2 separate regions of the Homo sapiens genome follow, and region 2 is linked to region 1. The links come from fine-mapping of genetic effects on gene expression. Tissue or cell type: whole blood. Region 1 holds a variant in brackets; the other region holds the start of a gene. All regions are shown on one strand. Distances are from middle to middle.

Region 1 (8,267 bases):
GGTGGTACAATGAAAAATAGGAGTTTAATTTGAGTTATTAACGGTGTTAAAAATTGACAGGAAAACAGAACACAGAGACTTATGTTTGCATGTAAGTGTGCATGCTTTTATTATGATAAATTTGTTATATCAAAAAGAGAATTTTATAAGGGGGAGGAAAAATCACGCACCAAAATTGAGAGTGCAAAACGATAAGACAAATTTGGGAATTAAAAAAATTGTATGGTTGCAATGTAAAAGTTGAAGTATGGTTTGAAAAGATTAGATGTACTGATGAAATATATAGGAGTAATTATTTGTCCTGGGGACAGTGTAAATTATTTTAGAATATTATTAAACAGGGGCGTTATTTATAGTCAGATTTATAATTAAGAAAGATGGCTTGCAGAATGGACAGCAGGTTGAATGGCATACAGGAAGCCAAAATTGCCTGTGTTACAATTCTTTGCCAAGACTCTTAAAACTAAGGTTGGATAGAATTAGAATTCGTAACTAGGAATCAAAGTAAAAATGAATTGGGTTCAAATAATATGAGTTCTTTTTCTGTTAGTCTTTCATTTCCAAACGACTTCTCTTTCCCTCCATTCATATATGTAGCTATCTTCCATTGGAGATAATAATAATCAGTAATGTCACCCAAAGAGAAAAGAAGAATTTGACTTAAAAGGGGAAAATTAGACTTAAAATATATTAAAAAAATACTCTCTTATCTGCCTTGAAGGGCAGGCATTTTCTGAAATAAAGACAAGAATTTAGTGAAACTATTTTCCTTTACCCAGAAGGATCCACCCCGTTCCTTTTTTCCCTAACATCCAGTGAAAGAAGTAAATAGTGTTGACATATACTCACATTAGCAAGTATTTACACATATTTTGAAAGTTTTAATTTTAAAGACATGGTCCCTGTAATCTTTTGCCTTGTAATCTTTTGATCCATAATCCCACCATCATTTTTAGTTGGAGAATATGTATAACAACAGAGAAAAGTATGAGATGCTTTTTAACTTTTAATTTTGGTGTTATCACAAATAATGAATGCACTTATGAGATACATGGGATATATTGATACAGACATTCAATGTATAATAATCACATCATGAAAAAATAGAATATTTATACCCTCAAGCATTTATCCTTTGTGTTATAATCAAATTATCCCCTTTTAGTTATTTTTTAATGCGCAATTAAATTATTTTGACTATAGTCACCTGGGGTGCTGTCAATTACTAGGTCTTATTCATTCATTCTAATAAATTTTGTACCTATTAACCATTCCCACCTCCTCCTGCAACCCTCCACTACCCTTCCAGCTTCTGGTAATCAACTTTCTACTCTCTATACTCATAAGTTCAATTGTTTTTATTTTTAGATTCCACAAATACATGAAAACATGTGATGTTTGTCTTTCTGTGGCTGGCTTGTTTTGCTTAATGCAATGATCTCCCATTCCATCCATGTTGTTGCAAATGACAGAATCTCAGTCTTTCTTATGGCTGAATAGTACTGCATTGTGTATATGTACCATATTTTTTTTATCCATTCATCTGTTGATGGACACTTAGACTGCTTCCAAATCTTAGCTGATGTAAACAGTGCTGCAAAAAAATATGGGAGTGCAGATGTCTCTTCAATATACTGATTTTCTTTCTTCTGGCTACATACCCCGAAGTGGAATTGCTGGATTATATGGTAGCTTTATCTTTAGTTTTTTTTGAGAAGGCTCCAAACTCTTCTTCATAGTGGTTGTACTAATTTACATTCCCAACAGTGTATGAATGTTTCCTTTTCTCTGCATCCTCACCAGCACTGTTTATTGCCTATCATTTGGATAAAAGTCATTTTAACTGGGGTGAGATGATGTATCATTGGAGTTTTGATTTGCATTTCTCTGATCATCAATGGTGCTGAATATCTTTTCATAAGCCTGTTTGTTGTTTTTATGTTTTCTTTTGAGAAATATCTATCCAAATCTTCTACCCATTTTTATTTTTTTCTTTTACCCATTTTTAAATCAGATCATTAGATTTTTTTCTTATAGAGTTGTTTCAGCTCCTTATAAATTTTGGTTATTAATCCCTTTTCATTTGGAGAGTTTGCAAATATTTTCTCCCATGCTGTTGGTTGTCTTTCACCTTGATTATTTTCTTTATTCCACAGATGCTTTTTAACATGATATGATTCTATTTGTCCATTTTTGCTTTTGTTTCTTGTGCTTGTGGGGTATTACTCAAAAAATTTTTGCCCACACCAATGTTCTAATAGTTTCCCTAATGTTTTATTTTAGTAGTTTCATAATTTGAGGTCTTAGATTTAAATCTTTCATCAGTTTTGATTTTGTTTTTGTATGTGGCAAGAGATAAGGTTATAGTTTCATTCTTCTGCAAATGGATATCCTGTTTTCCCAGCACCATTTATTGAAAAGGCTATCTTTTCCCCAGGGTATATTCTTGACACCTTTGTCAAAAACGAGCTCACTGTAGGTGTGTAAATTTGTTTCTGTGTTCTCTATTTTGTTCCATTGGTCTATGCATCTGTTTTTATGCCAGTACCATGCTGTTTTAATTATTATAGTTCTGTAGTATAATTTGGAATTATGTAATGTGATTCCTCTAGTTTTGTTCCTTTTGCTCAGGATAGCTTTGGCTATTCTGGGTCTTTTGCAGTTCAATATAAATTTTAGACTCATTTCACCTATTTCTGTAAAGAATGTTGTTGGGCATTCTTTTTATTGGACAGAGATGGCATTTGGACAGAGATGGCATTCAGTCTGTAGGTTGCTTTGGGTAGTTTGTACATTTTAACAATATTAGATCTTTCCATTCATGAGCATGGAATATCATTTTATTTTTGCGTCCTCTTCAATTTCTTTCATCAGTGTATTATAGTTTTCATTGTAGAGGTCTTTCCCTTGTTTGGTGAAGTTAAATCCTAGGCATTTATTTAAGGCTGCTATAAATGGGATTACTTTTTAAATTTCTTTTTTGAATTGTTTAGTGTTGGCATGTAGAAATGCTACAGATTTTTGTATATTGATTTTATCTCCTGTAACTTTATCAAATTTGTTTATCTGTTCTAATAGTTTTCTGGTGGAGTCTTTACGATTTCCAAATAAGAAGAAAATATGATCTGCAAACAAAGATAATTTGACTTCTTTCTTTTTAATTTAAATGTCTTTTATTACTCCTGCCATTTTGTTATTTGTTGTCTGCTTGTTTTATGATCTTATCTTCCTTTTTTCCTTTTCTTCTGTCTTGCTTTTAGCAAAGGTGATTTTCTCTTGTAGTATGATTCAATTTTTTGCTTTTTACTTTTTGAGTATCCATTGTATGGATGCCATGAGGTCTGCAAATACTATCTTATAACTCATTATTTTAAACTGATAACAGCTAAATACTGATTGCATAAACAAACAACCATGGAAAAAGAAAACTAATAAAAACTGTATACTTTAGTTGCATCATCTCAATTTTTAACTTTTTGTTGTTTCTCTTGATGTCTTCATGTACTGTCTGCATCTTGAAAAGTAGTCGTAGTTATTATTTTTGATTGGTTTAGTCTTTCTAATTAAGAGATGTTTACACATCACAATTACAGCGTTATAATATTCTGTGTTTTTCTGTGCTCTTACTATTACCAGTGAGTTTTGTATCTTCAAATGATTCTTTCTTGCTCATTTAAGTCCTTTTTTTCAGATTGAAGAACTTGGTTTAGCATTTCTTGTAGAACATGTCTGGCATTGATAAAAGCCCTCATCTTTTTTTTGTTTGTCTGGGAAAGTTTTTATTCATCTTTTTTGCTTGAAGGACATTTTCACTGGATGTGCTTTTTTAGGGTCAAAGTTTTTTCCTTTGGCATTTTAATTATGTCACGCCACTCTCTTCTGGCCTGTAAGGTTTCCACTGAAAAGTCTGCTGCTAGATATATTGGAGTATATTATTTGTTTCTTTCTCTTGCTGCTTTTAGAAATCTGTCTTTATCTTTGACCTTCGGAAGTTTGATTATCAAATGTCTTGAGGTAGTCTTCTTTGGGTTAAATCTGCTTGGTGTTCTATAACTTTCTTGTACTTGAAGGTTGATATTTTTCTTTAGGCTTGGGAAGTTTTCTGATATTACTCCTTTGAAATAAACTTTCTATCCCTATCTCTTTCTCTACTTCATCTTTAATGCCAATAACTTTTAGATTTATCCCTTTGAGCCTCTTTTCTAGATCTTGTAGTCATGCTTTATTGTTTTTTTTCCTTCCTACATTTCCTGTGGCTGTATACTTCCAAATAAACTGTCTTCAAGCTCATTAATTCTTTATTCTGCTTGATCAATTCTACTATTAAGGGACTCTGACGCATTCTTTAGTATATCAATTATATTGTTCAATTCCAGAGTTTCTGCTTGATTCATTCTAATTATTTCAATCTCTTTGTTGAATTTACCTGATAGAATTCTGAGTTCCTTCACTGTGTTATCTTGAATTTCTTTGAGTTTCATTAAAACAGCTATTTTGAATTCTCTGGACAGTTACAGACATAGAATTTTGGAAGAATTCTCTAGATTATCAGATGGGCGCTTGTTCTTTTTCCTTATTTTGTCCCAAACAAAAGAGTCTCTCTTTCTGTGCTGAGCCATCTGGAACTGGGGTGGAGAGACACAAGCACCCCTGTCACCACCACCGCTATTTCAGACCTGAAGCCAGCACAGCACTGGGTCTCTCCCAAGATGCTCTGTAATCACTAACTGGCTACAACCTCTGTTCACTCAAGGCCCTAGGGCTCTGTGATCAGCAG[G/A]TGGCAAAGCCAGACAGGTTTGTGTTCTTCCATTCAAGGTGGTGAGCTCCCCCAGGTTCTCTACAGGCCCAGAAATGCTATTTGGGAGCCAGGAATTGGAGTAAAAAATCTTAGTAATTTGCCTGTTGTTCTATTCTACTGTAGCTAAGCTGGCATTTAAACCACAATACAAAGTCCTTCCTGCTTTTCCCTTCCCTTCCCACAGGCAGAGGAGACTTTCCCTGTGGCCACCAGCACCACAGGCCCATGGGGCATTCTACCAGGCCACCACTGATGTTCACTTAAAGCCTCAGGGCTCATCTGTCAGTTTGTGATTAATGCTACCAGGCCTGAGACTCACCCTTCAGGGCAGTGGGCTCCCCTGTGGCCCATGACAGGTCCAGAAATGCTATCCAAGAGCCTAGGCCTAGACTCAGAGACCCTAAGACCTTGATTATTGCTCTAACCCACTGTGGCCAAGCTGGTACCTAAAGTGCAAGGCAAAGTCCCCTTTACTTTCTCCCCTGCTTTCATCAAACTGTAGGAGTCTTTCAGCATAGTCACCACAGCTGGGAATGTGTTGGATCACAGCTGAATTCAGGACATCTTAGAGCCCAAGGCGCATTGCATACTACCTGAGTATTGATTATTAAGGACACAAAGACTCTTTAGTCAGCAGGTGACAAATTCTGCCAGGACTGGATCCTTCCCTTTATGTCACTGGGTTCTCGATTGGCTAGGGTATGTCTAGAAATGTCATCTGAGAGCCAGGGCCTGGGGTGGGTATCTCACATCTTTACCTGGTGCCCTGTCCTACTATGGGTGAGCTAATATCCAAGGTGCAATACAAAGTCTTCTTTACTCTTCTCTCTCCTTTTCTTAAGCAGAAAAAAGAAATCACTTTCATTGCTGTGAGCTGTGCAGCCTGGGGTTTGCCGGGAGGTGAGACAAACACCCCCTTAGCCACCTGGCTAGTAACTTTCCAGGTTAATGACTCTGAGCCTAGCCCAGCACAAGGAGTTCCCTAGTAATTGTAGTTCTTGAATCCTAGACTGCCTTTCAAGTCTACCAAGGACCCCAGAGCACTTTGGCTAGCAGTGACGAGGCTTGCTGAGCAACTCAAGTTTCAACCACTGGGATAGATGATTCCTCTCTGGCTAGGGCTGGTTCAAATGCTCCCACCATGCACAGGCACTGGCTGAGCCTATCACAGCTTTGTTCTCAACTATGACATGCAACACTGAGTTCAATGTAATGTCCCTCAGATGCTGTACTCTCCCTCCTCCAACACACAGACTCTCCATACTGCTGCATGGCCTCTGCCAGGGGATAGGGGAAGATTGGTGTCTACCATTCAAGACTGTCTCTCTGACCCACTTCAATGCCTCTTTCAGCAATAAGAAGTTAAAAGCAGGTACTGTGATTGCTCACTGAGTTTGGGAAACCACCTTTGAAATGATCTATACAGGAAATTTCAAAGTAAAAAGAATATGCACTTATTAATTAGGAAAAACATTATTTTGCTCCAATTTTTGACACATATTTCATCCACTGACATTGCAAGCCCCTGGAAGTAATTCTGGAGTAATATTTAAACTTGGTTCTGTATCATCATCATTGTTATTCTTATCATATATGAGATTATCCTAGTAAGTCTGAAAACAGTGGAAAATTACTTTATTCTGAAATTTAAATATGAAATCAATAAATATGATAGTGCAAAGGTATGAAATGTTATATTAATAACAAGTATGAAGCCTAAGAGACTTGGCAAACTGAAGGAACATAAGCAGACATTCGAGGAAAGTCTATGTCTAGACATACATTGAAATAAGAAAAAAGAGTCACAGAGGCAGGGGTGACAGTACCCATTCCTCTTCACTTTGTGGGAGAGAGCCTTAGCCAAATGATAACAACGCATTTAGTGATGGTGAAAGTATGCAAAGGGTTGTGTAATCAACGGACTTTGATACTTTCATCCATAAGCAGAAGTTTTTCCCTTAGGTTGGAGTTATTAGCTTGATGATATTACAAATTGATTTATCTCATTCTCCCTCATTTGATTCTATGTCCACTTAGCATTCTTCTGATTATACTTTTGGCCAGGTTGCTGAAAGAAAATACTCTCACTATATTAATGCAAATATTCTATTTCTTATAAAAGTTATATTTCTCAAAACTAAATTAATATTTTGGACTTATATAATGGTTTCTTAAGCATGTTAAAATCTCCACTGATAATGGGCATACCTTACATTATGGACTATAGTATATTCATTACTAACAAGCAATATCTCCAAAAAGACAGTCTACCAACCTTCTTTTAGGTAGAGATGAACACACATTGTCCTAAGAAGATAAAATTTTCTCTTTCTTTTGTGTTTTGTTTTGTATAGTTATTTAATTCTTACATTCTTAATTATCATTATCATCAGTAGAAAATACAAGGGTTAAGGATAACAAGAGCTAGTATTTGTTAGTATCTACTATTTTATTCCATTTGGACAGCTGGAACAAAATGCCATAAACTGAGTAGCTTATAAATGATTGAAATTTATTTCTCACAATTCTAGAGGCTGGGAAGTCCAGGATCAAGGCATTGGAAGATCTAGATCTGGTGAGGGCCCACTTTCTAATTTCTGTATGGCATCTTATAACTTTGTCCTCACATGGTAGTAGTAAAGAGCTACCTCTCTGGGGTCTCTTTTATAAAAGCACTTATTCTAGTTATGAAGGCTCTGCTCTCATAACCTAATCACCTCCCAAAGGCCCCACCTCCAAATGCCATAACCTTGGGGGTTAGGATTTTAACCATATGAATTTTAGAAGGAAAATAAAGATTCAGACAATAGCACATAGCATCTACTGTAAAGCCTACTTCACATGAAAAGGTAAAGAAATGCTGTGCCAAAAAGCATAGGTTTTCATTTCTTAGACACATTGATGAAAATTCCAGCTTGGCTACTTTCCAATTGTGTGATTTCAGAGGTTATTCTACAGCCTGAAGTCTGATTTTCTTCTGTAAAATGGGAGAAATAAAGGTACTCATCTCATGGGCCTGCCTCTTGGAATGTGGTAGGATTGTACCCATCTCCTTTCAAGGTTGCTGTAGCTACATAACTTACTTTCACTAATGCCACATAAGCAGAGGTAGTATGTGAGCTTCCATTTGAGATAATGGGTTGGAAACCAGAACACCATTTGTTATTTACCATTTCTCTGCCATGGTAAAGCCATGTGTCAAAATGGATCTTCCATTATTCCAGTTCTCTAAAAAGTACAATGATCAGAGCTACCTGTTGACTACATTGGGCAGAAAGTTAATAGTAAACCTGGTGATATTTGCAGCCTATATATTTTGATTGATATCCTACTGATAAATAGAACTCAAACCAAAATTGTCTGATTCTTTTTTTTAAAAAAAGTGCTTTTTTACCCTCTATATTTTGTCCATTATTAAAAACAATTTATTTAAGGCATTGTGCTGAACATCTGCTATACAAATTGAGAA
Region 2 (8,000 bases), 35 kb before region 1:
CTCTTTCTTCAGGCAAGAGCCAGTCTTGAGATTTGAAATGTGCTTTATCCATAGATAATGTTTCTTGGAGACATCCCACAATGGGCTCTGTTTTTATTGGAAGACTCATTGAACATATGCAAGAATATGCCTGTTCCTGTGATGTGGAGGAAATTTTCCGCAAGGTAAGATGCTAGTGGATGCTATTTTCACTCTACTTCCCTGAATGCTTGGCTATTGCAATTGGAAGCATAGAAAGCAGATCCAGACAAGTTTATCTTCCAATAATGCTCTTCTTTCCAAAAGAGTTTTGGAGTTCTTTGGAGAGTGGACAAACCCAGGAGCCTAATCCAATCTATTAAGACCCACAGCCTTGAGAAAACAATCATTTAGTTTCACCCCGCTCCTGCCCTGCAGAGACAAATGAATGGACTCTAATTTACCTGTGTCTCTCATGGCTATTAGATCCAGCAGCAGATTTAAAATGCCCTGAGGAGGGTCATTCAATGCTTACATACATATATGGTTATACTTGTTGCAGATGGAAGTACTTTTTGTTTTTGTCACTTATTTTGCTATATTTGTTGTAGTTTTTTGGCATAACTCAAGAAATTCTTGAAAAAAAAAACTCAGCAAAAAAAAGGGCTACAGACTTTCCTTACTCTTTTAGGTTCGATTTTCATTTGAGCAGCCAGATGGTAGAGCGCAGATGCCCACCACTGAAAGAGTGACTTTGACAAGATGTTTCTACCTCTTCCCAGGACATTAAAATAAGGAAACTGTATGAATGTCTGTGGGCAGGTACATGTGTATGGTCGGGAGTGTGGGAAGGTTGAGGAAAGGGTACTGAAAGTCCATTTGAGTCAAGAACTCTAGGTTTACAGGCTGAGAATCCTTAATCCAAAAATTTGAATTTTGAAATGCTCTAAAATCCAACACTGTGTGAGCGCCCACATGATATTCAAAGGAAATGTTTATTGAAACATTTCAAATTATAGGTTTTTGGATTAGGGATGCTAAACCAGTAAGTATACAGCTGAATTCCAATATACAAAAATATCTGAAATTTGAAATACTTCTGGTAGCATGCATTTTGGATAAGGGATAATCAAGCCATATACAGAAAATACTGAAGTAATGCCTTTCTTCTGGTCAGTGCAGAGCACGTTGCTCTTCTCCCAAAGTTTTTCATTTAGACCCCTTTTGAGATTCATCTGATATTGGCCTAGAAGTGGCCGTAAGACTACAAACCCTCACTTTTGGATGTTTCTCTCCTTCACCTCAGCAGGGTATATTTAAACATAGCATGTGGTCTTTCCTTTTAAAATTGTGTATGTTCCCATTGGTGGTATAACTTTATAACTTGCATGTCTTTAACAAAATTCTTTCCTATGTTTTTTTTTTTAATTATTTCTTTTTCTCATAGGAAGTGAAGAGATCCTTCTGTAAAGGTTTTTGGAATTATGTCTGCTGAATAATAAACTTTTTTGAAATAATAAATCTGGTAGAAAAATGAAAACTTGTCCTCATTTTTCTCCCACACTGAAGAAACAGGGACTGGAACTTAGAGTGACTAAGGAATTTAGAGTGTTTGACTTAATCTGTCAGACCCAAACTGGCTATTGGCACCTTTCTTTCCCAGAACTTAAAGTAAAATAAAATATAAAAATTTAAAAAAGAAAATCAGACTTACAAACATAGCAATGTTATTAATTACTTTCTTGAACAAAAATTTATTTTGTGCCATTTTTAAAAAAAGAAAAATCGTTTGCTGGGCTTTCTGCTTTGGGGATGTGATATAAGTTACAGCAGGTATCTGACTTCAAATAATTTAGAGCTCAGCAGGAGAGACGGGGGAAGACAGCTAGTTATGACAGCGACAGTGTAGTGTGATAAAGAACTTTTCCCAAATCCCACAGTTTGCTACTGACAAATCCATGAACTTGCATGTTTCTACCCTTTGCAAAAGTATTTAAGACAAAGTAAGTTTTGAATCAACCCTCAGTAGTTCACAGACTTCTTGAAAAGATAAGACAGCCATCCAAAATGAAGCGCTTGGCAGATGGTGCCTGACACCCTGAAGAAACTCTAGGATGCATGGTGTGCACAGTGAAGTCCTGGCATGGTGCAGAGAAAACGAGTTTGGGGTGAAATCATGCACTCAGGGATGTTAAGATTTAGGGAGGATTCGAAGAACTACCCCTTACTTGCAAATATGTTTTTTTCTAATATTTAACAGATTAAATGAGAGTTAATTTCTGACTTCTTAAACACCTTCATAGTTGAACACATTACAGTCTCTCTCTCTCTCTCTTTTTTTTTTTTTTTACCTTTTATTAACTGTTTCTCTGGGCATATCTCTTCTGTGTTATCATGCATACTCTACTACAACCTGAGACTACATCTGTGATCAGTCTTTGCTCAGAGAATATCAAAAAGGAGAAGTGAATTGCCACCCTAAGTAAAAATTAACTGTTAAAGCAGTTTTAGTCAGTTGAAGAACAGCATTCCAGGAAGTAGATAAGAGGATTCCTTCAGAACTGTCTCCAATCAAAGCGTAAGATGACAGGGAGATGGGGAGGAGAAGACTCCATCATGATTCCTCAGCACAGTTTAAACAAGAAATACATTTATTGAATAAACAATCCTTTCCTTGTTTCTTTTTGCTGTTGTTGTTGACTTTGTTGAGTATCAGTTGGTTATAGGTGTGTGGCTTTATTTTGGGGTTCTCTATTCTGTTCCATTGGGCTTTGTGTCTGTTTTTTTTGTACGAATACCTTGCTGTTGTGGTTACTGTAGACTTCTAGCATAGCTTGAAGTCCAGTAATGTGATGCATCCATCTTTTTGAAAAGCAGTTTGGAGATTTACCAAATAACTAAAAAAAGAACTATCATTTGTCCAAGCATCCCATTACTGACTGAATCCTCAAAGGAAAATGTACTGTTCTATCAAAAAGACATGTGCTTTCAAATGTTTGTCGCAGCACTATTCACTGTAGCCAAAATAATAGAATCAACCCAGGTGTCCATCAATGGTGGATTGGATTTAAAAAAATGTGGTACACTGCTACTATGGAATGTTACACAGCCATAAAAATGAAACCCTGCCCTTTGCAGCAACATGGATGCAACTGGAGGCCATTATTCTAAGCAAATTAATGCAGAAACAGAAAACCAAATATCACATAATCTCACTTGTAAGTTCTAGCTAAATATTGTGTACACATGGACATAAAGACGGGAATAACAGACACAGGGAAATACCAGAGGGAGGAATGAAGGAAGAAGGCAAGAGCCGAAAAACTATGTACTGGGTGCTATTCTCACTACCTAGGTAATAGGTTAAATTGTACTACAAACCTCTGCATCACCTAATATACTCTTGTAACAAACCTGCATATGTACCCCTGAAACTCAAATAAAAATTGAAATGAAAAATAAAGAAACCCAAGATATACAAAATATTTGGTTAATTCTTATGGGAAGATGCAAGGAAACTAGTTAGATTTTACTCATTCAGGACATGTGTTTTTAGACGAGCAGAGGTAGAAAAACTGACAGATCAGAAGAGAGGGATGAATAAAAGAAGATGTGGGGCTATGGAGAGAGAAAAGGAAAAAGAAAACCAGGCTGAGGTTTCAACCCACAAAACAATGTTTTGTCATTTGCATTTTTTTTCCCCAGGGAAGAATCTAGAGTTCAAGAATAGAAAGCCAATTTGCTTACTACAGGGCACTTCCCAATGATGAAACTATAGGTTCCCAGAAGCAACTTCCCATAATCTGTAATCACTTGTCCCCACTCCCTGCAATAAGGAAGTACCTAGTGTATTTTATCTCTGAGTCTGAGGCACTTTCCAGTGCTGTACAAAGAGACAGAGGCTGTTAGCTATGGCTGGTGAGTCTGGGCCCTTTTCTGACTAGCAGCTGGGTACTCAGGTCTTAGAAAAATCTTGATTTATTGCTATGTGACAGGCAGAAATACCAAAAGGGAAATCAACCAATAGTGTGCATGCTGAATCTTTCTCTTATTGGTGGTATGTAGTTTGAATCCTGAGACTGTGTAGAGACACTGAAGGAGAGTATGTTCTCTAGATGTTTTCAAGCCAGAAAAAGGTTAATTCCTTTCTTTCAGCTTCTGGTAATCAAAGAGAGAGTAAGGAAAGACAGAGTAAGTTATTTGTGTGAGAAAACTCCGGAAATTTCTAAATGCACTCTGAAATCTTCTCTGCTTCCTCTTGATTCCAAATTAATCCTCCAGACTATGAACCTTCTCCCCACAATCAGATCTGAGAGCCTCTGTGTTCTCAACGTGTTGTCATCTCTTATCTTGAATTATCTTATTGGTCTGTTTAAAGTGATTGCATTTTTCCACCTTTCTATGTAGTCCTGGTACTAACTCTTATAATGTAATATATCTTAGGTTGCTATCATAGACTTTTAACTGTCTTCCCACTCCCAAAAACTTAACCCTTCAGTCCATACTGCACACTACTTTCAGGCCAACTGTCTTATACACAGAAGCTAAAAAAGCCTATGAGTTGGAGTCCTGGGCTACTTAAGCAGCTCGTATTCCAGCAGGTCATATTGCGTCTTTGGTTTCATTCTCCTCACTGGAAAAAGGAAGAAACTGGAATAGATCAGTGCTTTCTAAACCTTATAACATATATGAATAATCTGCAGTCTTTTTTTTTCTTTAATTTATTTATTTATTATTATTATACTTTAAGTTTTAGGGTACATGTGCACAATGTGCAGGTTAGTTACATATGTATACATGTGACATGCTGGTGGGCTGCACCCACTAACTCGTCATCTAGCATTAGGTATACCTCCCAATGCTATCCCTCCCCCCTCCCCCCACCCCACAACAGGCTCCAGAGTGTGATGTTCCCCTTCCTGTGTCCATGTGTTCTCATTGTTCAGTTCCCACCTATGAGTGAGAATATGCGGTGTTTGGTTTTTTGTTCTTGTGATAGTTTACTGAGAATGATGATTTCCAATTTCATCCATGTCCCTACAAAGGACATGAACTCATCATTTTTTATGGCTGCATAATATTCCATGGTGTATATGTGCCACATTTTCTTAATCCAGTCTATCATTGTTGGACATTTGGGTTGGTTCCAAGTCTTTGCTATTGTGAATAATGCCACAATAAACATACGTGTGCATGTGTCTTTATAGCAGCATGATTTATAGTCCTTTGGGTATATACCCAGTAAAGGGATGGCTGGGTCAAATGGTATTTCTAGTTCTAGATCCCTGTGGAATCGCCACACTGACTTCCACAATGGTTGAACTAGTTTACAGTCCCACCAACAGTGTAAAAGTGTTCCTATTTTTCCACATCCTCTCCAGCACCTGTTGTTTCCTGACTTTTTAATGATTGCCATTCTAACTCGTGTGAGATGGTATCTCATTGTGGTTTTGATTTGCATTTCTCTGATGGCCAGTGATGGTGAGCACTTTTTCATGTGTTTTTTGGCTGCATAAATGTCTTCTTTTGAGAAGTGTCTGTTCATGTCCTTCGCCCACTTTTTGATGGGGTTGTTTGTTTTTTTCTTGTAAATTTGTTTGAGTTCATTGTAGATTCTGGATATTAGCCCTTTGTCAGACGAGTAGGTTGCGAAAATTTTCTCCCATTTTGTAGGTTGCCTGTTCACTCTGACGGTAGTTTCTTTTGCTGTGTAGAAGCTCTTTAGTTTAATTAGATCCCATTTGTCAATTTTGGCTTCTGTTGCCATTGCTTTTGGTGTTTTAGACATGAAGTCCTTGCCCATGCCTATGTCCTGAATGGTAATGTCTAGGTTTTCTTCTAGGGTTTTTATGGTTTTAGGTCTAACTTTTAAGTCTTTAATCCATCTTGAATTAATTTTTGTATAAGGTGTAAGGAAGGGATCCAGTTTCAGCTTTCTACATATGGCTAGCCAGTTTTCCCAGCACCATTTATTAAATAGGGAATCCTTTCCGCATTGCTTGTTTGTCTCAGGTTTGTCAAAGATCAGATAGTTGTAGATATGCGGCATTATTTCTGAGGGCTCTGTTCTGTTCCATTGATCTATATCTCTGTGTTGGTACCAGTACCATGCTGTTTTGGTTACTGTAGCTTTGTAGTATAGTTTGAAGTCAGGTAGTGTGATGCCTCCAGCTTTGTTCTTTTGGCTCAGGATTGACGTGGCAATGCGGGCTCTTTTTTGGTTCCATATGAACTGTAAAGTAGTTTTTTCCAATTCTGTGAAGAAAGTCATTGGTAGCTTGATGGCGATGGCATTGAATCTGTAAATTATCTTGGGCAGTATGGCCATTTTTCACGATATTGATTCTTCCTACCCATGAGCATGGAATGTTCTTCCATTTGTTTGTACCCTCTTTTATTTCCTTGAGCAGTGGTTTGTAGTTCTCCTTGAAGAGGTCCTTCACATCCCTTGTAAGTTGGATTCCTAGGTATTTTATTCTCTTTGAAGCAATTGTGAATGGGAGTTCACTCATGATTTGGCTCTCTGTTTGTCTGTTGTTGGTGTATAAGAATGCTTGTGATTTTTGTACATTGATTTTGTATCCTGAGACTTTGCTGAAGTTGCTTATCAGCTTAAGGAGATTTTGGGCTGAGACAATGGGGTTTTCTAGATATACAATCATGTCGTCTGCAAACAGGGACAATTTGACTTCCACTTTTCCTAATTGAATACCCTTTATTTTCTTCTCCTGCCTGATCGCCCTGGCCAGAACTTCCAACACTATGTTGAATAGGAGTGGTGAGAGAGGGCATCCCTGTCTTGTGCCAGTTTTCAAAGGGAATGCTTCCAGTTTTTGCCCATTCAGTATGATATTGGCTGTGGGTTTGTCATAGATAGCTCTTATTATTTTGAAATACATCCCATCAATACCTAATTTATTGAGAGTTTTTAGCATGAAGCGTTGTTGAATTTTGTCAAAGAACTTTTCTGCATCTATTGAGATAATCACGTGGTTTTTGTCTTTGGTTCTGTTTATATGCTGGATTATATTTATTGATTTGCGTATATTGAACCAGCCTTGCATCCCAGGGATGAAGCCCCCTTGATCATGGTGGATAAGCTTTTTGATGTGCTGCTAGATTCGGTTTGCCAGTATTTTATTGAGGATTTTTGCATCAATGTTCATCAAGGATATTGGTCTAAAATTCTCTTTTTTGGTTGTGTCTCTGCCCGGCTTTGGTATCAGGATGATGCTGGCCTCATAAAATGAGTTAGGGAGGATTCCCTCTTTTTCTATTGATTGGAATAGTTTCAGAAGGAATGGTACCAGTTCCTCCTTGTACCTCTGGTAGAATTCGGCTGTGAATCCATCTGGTCCTGGACTCTTTTTAGTTGGTAAGCTTTTGATTATTGCCACAATTTCAGATCCTGTTATTGGTCCATTCAGAGATTCAACTTCTTCCTGGTTTAGTCTTGGGAGAGTGTATGTGTCCAGAAACTTATCCATTTCTTCTAGATTTTCTAGTTTATTTGCGTAGAGGTGTTTGTAGTATTCTCTGATGGTAGTTTGTATTTCTGTGGGATCGGTGGTGATATCCCCATTATCATTTTTTATTGCGTCTATTTGATTCTTCTCTCTTTTTTTCTTTATTAGTCTTGCTAGCGGTCTATGAATTTTGTTGATCCTTTCAAAAAACCAGCTCCTGGATTCATTAATTTTTTGAAGGGTTTTTTGTGTCTCTATTTCCTTCAGTTCTGCTCTGATTTTAGTTATTTCTTGCCTTCTGCTAGCTTTTGAATGTGTTTGCTCTTGCTTTTCTAGTTCCTTTAATTGTGATGTTAGGGTGTCAATTTTGGATCTTTCCTGCTTTCTCTTGTGGGCATTTAGTGCTATAAATTTCCCTCTACACACTGCTTTGAATGCATCCCAGAGATTCTGGTATGTTGTATCTTTGTTCTCGTTGGTTTCAAAGAACATCTTTATTTCTGCCTTCATTTCATTATGTACCCAGTAGTCATTCAGGAGCAGGTTGTTCAGTTTCCATGTAGTTGAGTGGTTTTG

The links. PIP is the estimated chance that this variant, and not a neighbour inherited with it, causes the effect.
Region 2: CASP5 starts here. The variant in region 1 is fine-mapped to the expression of CASP5 in whole blood (TOPMed, PIP above 0.99).

What each region holds. Positions count from the first base shown.
Region 1 is chr11:104,983,449-104,991,715 of GRCh38, reverse strand. No RefSeq gene overlaps it. Among named protein-coding and RNA genes, the nearest start is that of CASP4, 19 kb to the right of the region's middle. The variant G/A (reference allele first, on the strand shown) is at 4,778.
Region 2 is chr11:105,019,006-105,027,005 of GRCh38, reverse strand. CASP5 (caspase 5) reads left to right here and starts at 3,838. Exons shown (of 10, transcript NM_004347.5): 1 at 3,838-3,876. The coding sequence starts at 3,870. It overlaps CASP1 (caspase 1), which reads left to right. Exons shown (of 9, transcript NM_001257118.3): 8 at 55-164; 9 at 650-1,498. The coding sequence ends at 748. The region is part of intron 1 of LOC124902742 (a long non-coding RNA gene); the gene reads right to left.